Linked DNA regions of Homo sapiens. The protein of the gene in region 2 interacts with the protein of the main gene of each other region in a pairwise test. Each region holds a gene or a part of one and is shown on either strand. Other genes may lie near its edges.

Region 1 (3,500 bases), on a different chromosome or scaffold from region 2:
ATCATTTAAAATGATTAATACATTCAAAAAGAGTTCAAAGAACATTTAACTTGGAAGCATAAGGTGATTGTGACTGCTGGGATAAATAAAACAGATTCCCTTCTGTTGCTATCAGAAAGATATTTTCAACTACAAATCCGATTGGTTAGTTATGTGAATAATATTGGTACTCATCCTGAAAATGTGGGTTTTGTGCTGGCTGTGGAAAGACAAGAATGATACTCAGAACTAGAAAGAATGACATCATAATTCTCTCCCTTTCAATTCCTTCTCTAACTCTTCCTCCTCCTTCTTTGTTTGGTTTATTTAATATCTTTTATATTCAAGAAACTATCTGGTAGTAGGAATTAGATGATAGGAATGCAATGACACATAACTTCCTGATTTCTTAGAGTTTATAATGAAGTAGAAGAGACAGAAAGATAATATAAGGTACCATAAAAAATGGATAAAAACTTGCTCAATCATTATAGGGGACAGGAGGGACAGGAGGTTCACTCCAAGCTATTACTCTCTGGGAAGGCTTCATAAAGTGGTAGGACCTTTGAAATAAGGGTAGGACTGAGAAAAACGAAGGAAGGAAACAGCATTCTAGGCAACTTTAAATTTTTATTTGCTTGTTTCCTTGTAACCTATCTTGTTTCAGAAAGAGTTTAATAGCATAAATTAAAAGTGTGACAAAATAATTTAAAAATTGAGACATAAAATACAACCAGTAGAGTAAAGCTAAAATACATATTTGAACAACCTATGGTTTTTAATGTGAGAACAAAACTGAGTGTAAGCAATATAACATTTTGAGAAAATGAAAAACAGGTTTTAACTGAATTACAGTGTTCATTCATATATGATATAAACAGGAGGATAAGGAAAAGATGTAGAAAGTTTGAAATACCAAGGTAAATAATTTTGATTTACTTTTGTTGGCAGAAATGCACAATCATAATCATAACATTTTAGCTAGAAAGTACTTGGGACCTCTTAGCTGACAAGACTGTGAAAAGTCATTTTACCCATATTCCTTATTTTTTTTAATTTTTTAATTTAATTTATTTTGAGACTGAGTCTCGCTCTATCACCCAGGCTGGAGTGCAGTGGCGCAATCTCGGCTCACTGCAACCTCTGCCTCCTGGGTTCAAGCGATTCTCGTGCCTTAGCCTCCGGAGTAGCTGGGATTACAGGTGCCCACCGCCATGCCCAGCTAACTTTTGTATTTTTAGTGGAGACAGGGTTTCACCTTGTTGGCCAGGCTGGTCTCGAACATCTGATCTCAAGTGATCCGCCTGCCTTGGCCTTCCAAAGTGCTGGGATTACAGGCGTGAGCCACCGTGCCTGGCCCCATATTCTTTAATTTATATGAGAGTGCTATTCTAAAACTCCCTCCCTGACTGAAAGCGGCAAAAGGTTGGCCAGAGCAGCTCAAATATGAAAACTGAGGAAACGGAAACACACACACACACACACACACACACACACACACAGAGAGAGAGAGAGAGAGAGAGAGAGAGAGAGAGAGAGAGAGAGAGAGACGGAATGAATGAGTTCCTGGCAGATGATGTAAACTGTAAGCTTCTGGACCCAGCTTAAGTAAAGTAAGTGACCCTTTTTGCCTTAAGTCAACTTGGGTTGTATTTCCTATTACTTAAAACCAAGATAACCCTAATTAATAAATACTTAAATGAAGAATAAGCAATATTTGGTAATTATAAAGACAGTAGAAAGAGATGAGGTATTATGTCAAGGTTTTGTATGTGGGAGATTGAAACGAGGGAGTCTTGCAGTATAGTACTTCTGAGGAGGTAAGTAATTTCCATTTTATATCTGTTGAGTTTGATATAATAGTGATAGAAACATAGCCAAGTAGAAAAGTCAAACTAGCTTTTAAAACAACAGGCCGGGAGTTTGGAAGAAAGAACAGAGCAGTTAACTAGCAGGCATTTTCTTCATTTCTCACAAAAGAAAACTTGGAAACAGTTAAGTTAAGAAACTTTTCCAGGGGTTTACACACAGTGAGTACTGAGGATAGTATTTAAATAAGTGCACTCTGATCCTGGAATCTATACTATTAACCATTTTGCTATATGAGGAGTATATTTCAGATGCATGCACTTTTCTGACCCTGCCTGGGAACACTGAAAACTTGATGACTTTGTAGATTTAGCCAAGCCCCTTGCTTATGTGAGAAAAGTTGGCATGTAAAAGTCCTGTAAAATGTTGGCTGCCTTAGCAAGTGTAAGTATATAATTCTGTAATGACACTAGAAAAAGATGGTGGCTTTGAGATATAAGTCTAATATACAAGCTCATTTTGTGTAACTAATCACAGCAAACTTGTGCTGAACTTGTGATTTTGAGAGACTATAAAACTGGTCGTTATCATTGAGTTCAGATCAGATAAATACAGACTACAATAGTTTGTCACACTGACTGCAAAAGGCAATCCTTGGCAATTATGCCATATTAAACTGATAATTAAAAGTTTATGAATAAGAATGGTGACATATAACTTGAAACAATTATGCACTTAATAACTTAAGTCCTCCTTTCCTATTCTCTGCCCTCAAAATTAGAACTAAAGATTTCTAGATTGAATGTTCAGGGCAACTGGACAATTTTCTTATAATTTATAGGGAAAATCTGGTCCATGTTTGTTTACATAATCACTTGTTACAGATAATATATTTTGGGGTATTAGTGCATTTTTCTATTATTGTATCACTGTCCTCCAGGGTTTTGTTCTCCAGGTTTGGGTTCTTTCCTCTGATGTCCCCCTTAATAATATGTCACAGGTATGGAGTGAAAGTGTGTAGGGGAGGAGGAGGAAGTTTATCCTTCACCTGTAATGACGCTTCTACTCATTACTGAAATTGTTATTTGTTTTGTTCTGTTGGTCAGACAAGGTGTTTCACTCCAATTTGTCCTCACTTTAAATGTGAGATTTTGTATTAACTTTGCTAAGGTCTTTTGCCCCACTAATATTTTATGATTCTGAATTTAAAGCCAATATAATTAAAATAAAACTATTGTGTTATCAGTAAAAATCTTCACATTTACTGGGCAACTAAATGGAAACAAGTTAGGTTTATTTATATTTAGCATTTTTGGCCTTAAAGCAAAATTTATGTAAGATGCAAAGATAGGCTATGTATGAAAAATTCTATGTTAAGCCAGAAATTACTAGGTGTCTACAATTTGAACCATATGTGTCAGTAGCAGAATTCTTTTGTTTATTTGCAAAATGGTTTTATTGTCCAGGATTATACTTTTCTTGTATTAAGAGAATCATTAAGTGGCTCTGTGCCTAATACATAGACACTTGCCACTGAAGCTTTCAAATTTTTACTCACTTTAATTCAGCAAGTCAAGAATTCAAACATTCTCTTAATATTTACTAAAACTCACAGCCTAGAATTATTTTTGATTTAAAATTTTCAATCAAGAGCTCACAACTAAATCAAAGAATTTCATGAGGACGAATAAAAGCCTCATCTTACCTCCTAA
Region 2 (4,218 bases):
AAGTTGTCCAGGTTCTTGGCGTTTTGAACAAGGAATTGGACAAAACTCCTAGCAAAGCAAAGAAAGGATGAAGCAACAAAAGAACGAAAGCAGGGATTTATTGAAAACCAAAGTACACGCCACAGTGTGGGAGCAATCCGAGCAGCGGTTCAAGGGCACGGATACACAATCTTCTTGGGTCCCAGTACCCACTAGAAGTTTCCCTTTGGCCAGTTCATGCTTTGCAGAAAGCAACCAATCAGAGGCTAGGAAGAAGTTACGAAGTTGCAAAGGAAGACTCATCTGCAAACAGCCTGATTTGTTGGGGACAGGCAATTTCCCATCTGCTGCACAGAAAAGGTGGGGGTGTTGCAAAGGGAGTAGCCTCTGGTCCTTGTGTTACTTAGGCAAGGAAAGTTAGAGTTTTCCTTTCAATTTAGTCCTAGGAAGTTGGCGTGAAACAGCCTTAGGTTCCCTTCCTCCAGAACCTATTCTCCTGCCTCACTTTAAGTGGATAAATTATATGGTGTATGAATTATATCTCAATAAAGCTGTTTTAAAAGGGGGTGGTATAAGGAAGAATTCCAAATGATGCTATTTGCGTTTTTCCTTGGTCACTTTGGCTGGGCTCTGGCTACAGTGGATGAGGGATTCTTATGAAGCACTTGTGTAGCAGGAAGAAAAAAAAAATTTCCTAGCTATTGCCAAAGCATCCCTTGGGATCCCCTAACTTACTTGGGGATAATTTGGGATTCAGAAAGAGAAAAAAAAATAGATAACTGCCTTTGTTGAGAATTTCAGGGCAAGAGAAAACTAAGAAAAGAGGGCAGCGTTCTGTTAAAAAAAAAAAGGGATAGAACAACACTGTCCAACAGAAATGACTAAGAGACTCGAGAAGACTGATATTCAGATTGCAGTTACCCGCCGAATCACACTGTGATGTCAGCCTCCCTTGCTGTTACTCCCAAATCAGCATATCAGCAGTAGAACTCTACTGCTTTTTCTGTGTGGTATTGAGGGTTATGAAATTAAAGAGTAGGAACTTGGTCCAGCATGAGTTGCTGCAGTTCTGGAGACAATTGTAACAAGCTGCAACGAGAACTGCAGAAATGAAGAATGAGAATTGAGCAGAAATCAGAGCTATCAGTGATCAAGGGGGCCTAAGCCCCTGAATTCACAGTAATTTTCCTTAAGGATATGGCCGGGTATTTGGATAAATCTATAGATATTAGAGGACACTGACTTATATATGCTTGAAGCCCAGAGTTTCTGGCTTATGACATGTGCTGCAGGTCTGAGGGGCATTCATTTACAAAACTTTGATGATAAGGGGAGCAGAGAATGTGGAAAAACAGAAAAGAGGTAAATGAAGCCAGTGAGACAGGAAGGGGCATTATCTTCAGCAACAGGAATGCCAACAGCAGTCATCAATATTTATTGAGCAGGACAGGGGAGAGACACAGTTTAGGGAGGCTTCTCCCGGCTGACTCTTGAACCAAGCCCATAAAAATTGTGATGCTGACACCAGAAAATTCCAGTGAAAAGGCACAGTCAGGAAATGCTTTAGACTACATGGCCCAAGGGGCCCTTAGAGATCCTTCAACAGCCTCTAATTTGTCACAGACATGAATCCCCACTCACTGGATGTTGGAAAGAAGATTCAATCACAGAGTTTCCTTCAGGCAAGTCAGGTGTCTTTATAACTCTGCAAAGTAGAGAATCAAGAAGAAGCTGAGATTTTTCCTAAGTGGAGAGAGACCTAAATGGAAGTTCAGGAGGGACAACGGACTAGCACTCTTGTCCTTGTTCGCTGGAAGGAACCATCAAGTTGATGGGGATGGACATTGGGATAGATTTTGAGAGCAAGAGAGAACAAAGAAAAGGGTTGGGAGTGGCGGTCAGAACACATCTGCCTAGAACCTGGTTACCTACTTTGTAACATGCAGAAGTTGTACTTCCCAGAAAGGTGAGGGACCTGCCCCGGGAGGAGATCATCAGGACACAAACATCAGTGACAGGAAGAGAGCGTGTCCTTCTCACCTGCTTCTTGAAATTGCTCTTTGGTTTCCACCACTGGGAGGCTATCGGTTGCTTTCTTGTGTCTTCTGGTGCTCTCTGAAGTTAGGAAGTATTTAGAAGAGGAAGATTTGTGCTTCCAGGTCCTCCACCATCTCCCCAAACCCAGAAGCACAAGCTCCAAAAAAGTAAACAAGAGACAGAAACCGCTGACTCCAAACATGGTCTTTAGGAAAATGGTCTTCTCAGAGGGGCGGGACAGATTGCAGGTTATACTACCAAGGCAAGGTTCTCGGCGACATGCAAAGGAGCTGGGCATCTGGAACCCATACAGGTGGTACTGCAACCCCAGGGCTGCCCCCTCCAGGACAAGCCGAGCCCCCAGCTGAGCCACATAAGCCCAGAGCAGCCTGAGGCTTCCAGCCCCTGGGACATCTGTGTTGCCCTCCCGTCCCTGGATCAGGGTCTCCTCCTCCTTCCCCTTTCCTGATAATTCCCAGTGCCAGATCACGTGATACAGAGTGAAACCCATATAGAGGGCGCTGGGTACAGCCACCAAGATGACCTGGAAGACCCAGAAACGCAGCGGGGAGAGGGGGTGGAAGGCATCGAAGCAGGCAGCCTTGCAGCCCGGCTGCTGGGTGTGACACACGAATTCACTCTGCTCATCACCATAGACTCCAGGCCCACTGGCAGCCAGCAGCACAAGGCGGAATCCCAGGAGCACGGGAAGCAAGAGGCGCCCCACGGGGGTGGAGCGCCGGCTCTCCTCCGCCAGCAGCCGCCGCAGGAACCTGCCACACATCCTGTTTTGGAGCAGAGGACAAGAGATCAGTGTTGTTCACTGTCCTTCAGAGGGAGCTCCAGTCCACCTTGTCACTCCTAATCCAAGGATCACTGAAGGCAAGCTTTTTTATTCCTCTCCAAGTATCTGACTGATTAAATACCAAGACTCTGATTGCACCTCTTTACTACTTAATGAAATCATCTATGTAAAATAATAACAGTGAGTGTGTGTGGTGTGGCTCTCTCTTCTGCCCTCCCCTTCTGTACTGCTGGAGTGGAGAGGAACTCTCAGGTTGGAGAGACCAGGATACATCTTCATCTCTCTCTTTCCCTCCTTCCCTCCGTCTCTCTTTCCCAAAGGCTGAACGTAAGAGAGTAGACTGGGATGTTTTGTTAATTTTCCTTTGAAAGGTATTGCTTCCCCAGCTGATGGCTGCCAGGCCTGGTGCTCCTACAGCATCATCTTAAGCAAATTAGTGCTGATGCTGAGAGGGAATGTGCATTCTCTTGCGGTCTTCTTTTCTCTTCCTCCATGCCCTTGGATGATCACAGGTGTGTCTGGATGTCCTCTTCTCCCATCACAGTGGTAAAGTTGAGAGGTAGTTAGGTTATGGGGCTAGATGTGATGGATGAAATGAACAGAGCAAGCATCGAGGCTTGCTTTAGTCTGATGCTCTTAGGCCTTACAAGCTGAGGAAGAAGAGAACATTTGGAAGGTAACCCAGCAGAATTTACCAGAATTACATACTATAGGATTTGGGGCCAGAGCCAGAACTGACTAGATAGAAATTCAGATTTTTGACCCCCACTTGCCATTGTTCCTTGGGCATATTATCTCCCTCATGGTGACAGGCGACCATGATCAAGGATAAGTTTCAGAAATCCCTCTGTTCCCCAGCCAAAATACCACAATGCTACAAGCCCAAGTTCACCATCTCTATATTTGTCCTAATCAGCTGCCTTCCCCAATGCCCAGCAGCTGTTTCAAACCGTCCCCATTTAGCCTAAATTCTCACTCATCTGGTTACCCTCACACTCAGAAGACCATGTGGTATGGTCTGAATGATGATCAAGATGCATATGCTAGAACCTAATACAGTAGTCCCCCCTCTTATCTGCGATTTCACTTTCTACAGTTTCAGTTACCCACAGTCAACAGAGGTCCAAAAATATTAAATGGAAAATTCCAGAAATACAAAATTAATGTTTTAAATTGTGTGCTGTTCTGAGTAGCACTATGAAATCTCACACCATCCCACCCAGGATGTGAATCATCCCTTTGTCCAGGGTATCCAACGCTGTAGACGCTCCTTGCTGGTTTGTGACTTAATCGCCATTTTGGTTATCAGATCAACTATCAATACTCGTTCAAGTAACTCTTATTTTACTTAAGAATAGCCCCAAAAAGCAAGAGTAGTGATGCCAGCATATTGTTAC

What was found. The genes of interacting proteins can lie anywhere in the genome.
Region 1: the proteins of GJC3 (region 2) and MS4A13 interact in binary tests that used the Homo sapiens proteins (3 or more experiments, as listed by UniProt).

The regions. Positions count from the first base shown.
Region 1 is NC_000011.10:60,525,392-60,528,891, reverse strand, and holds part of MS4A13 (membrane-spanning 4-domains subfamily A member 13), read right to left. Parts: intron 1-3,500. UniProt on the Homo sapiens protein: May be involved in signal transduction as a component of a multimeric receptor complex.
Region 2 is NC_000007.14:99,926,821-99,931,038, forward strand, and holds the start of GJC3 (gap junction gamma-3 protein precursor), read right to left. Parts: upstream 2,801-4,218; coding exon 2,020-2,800; intron 1-2,019.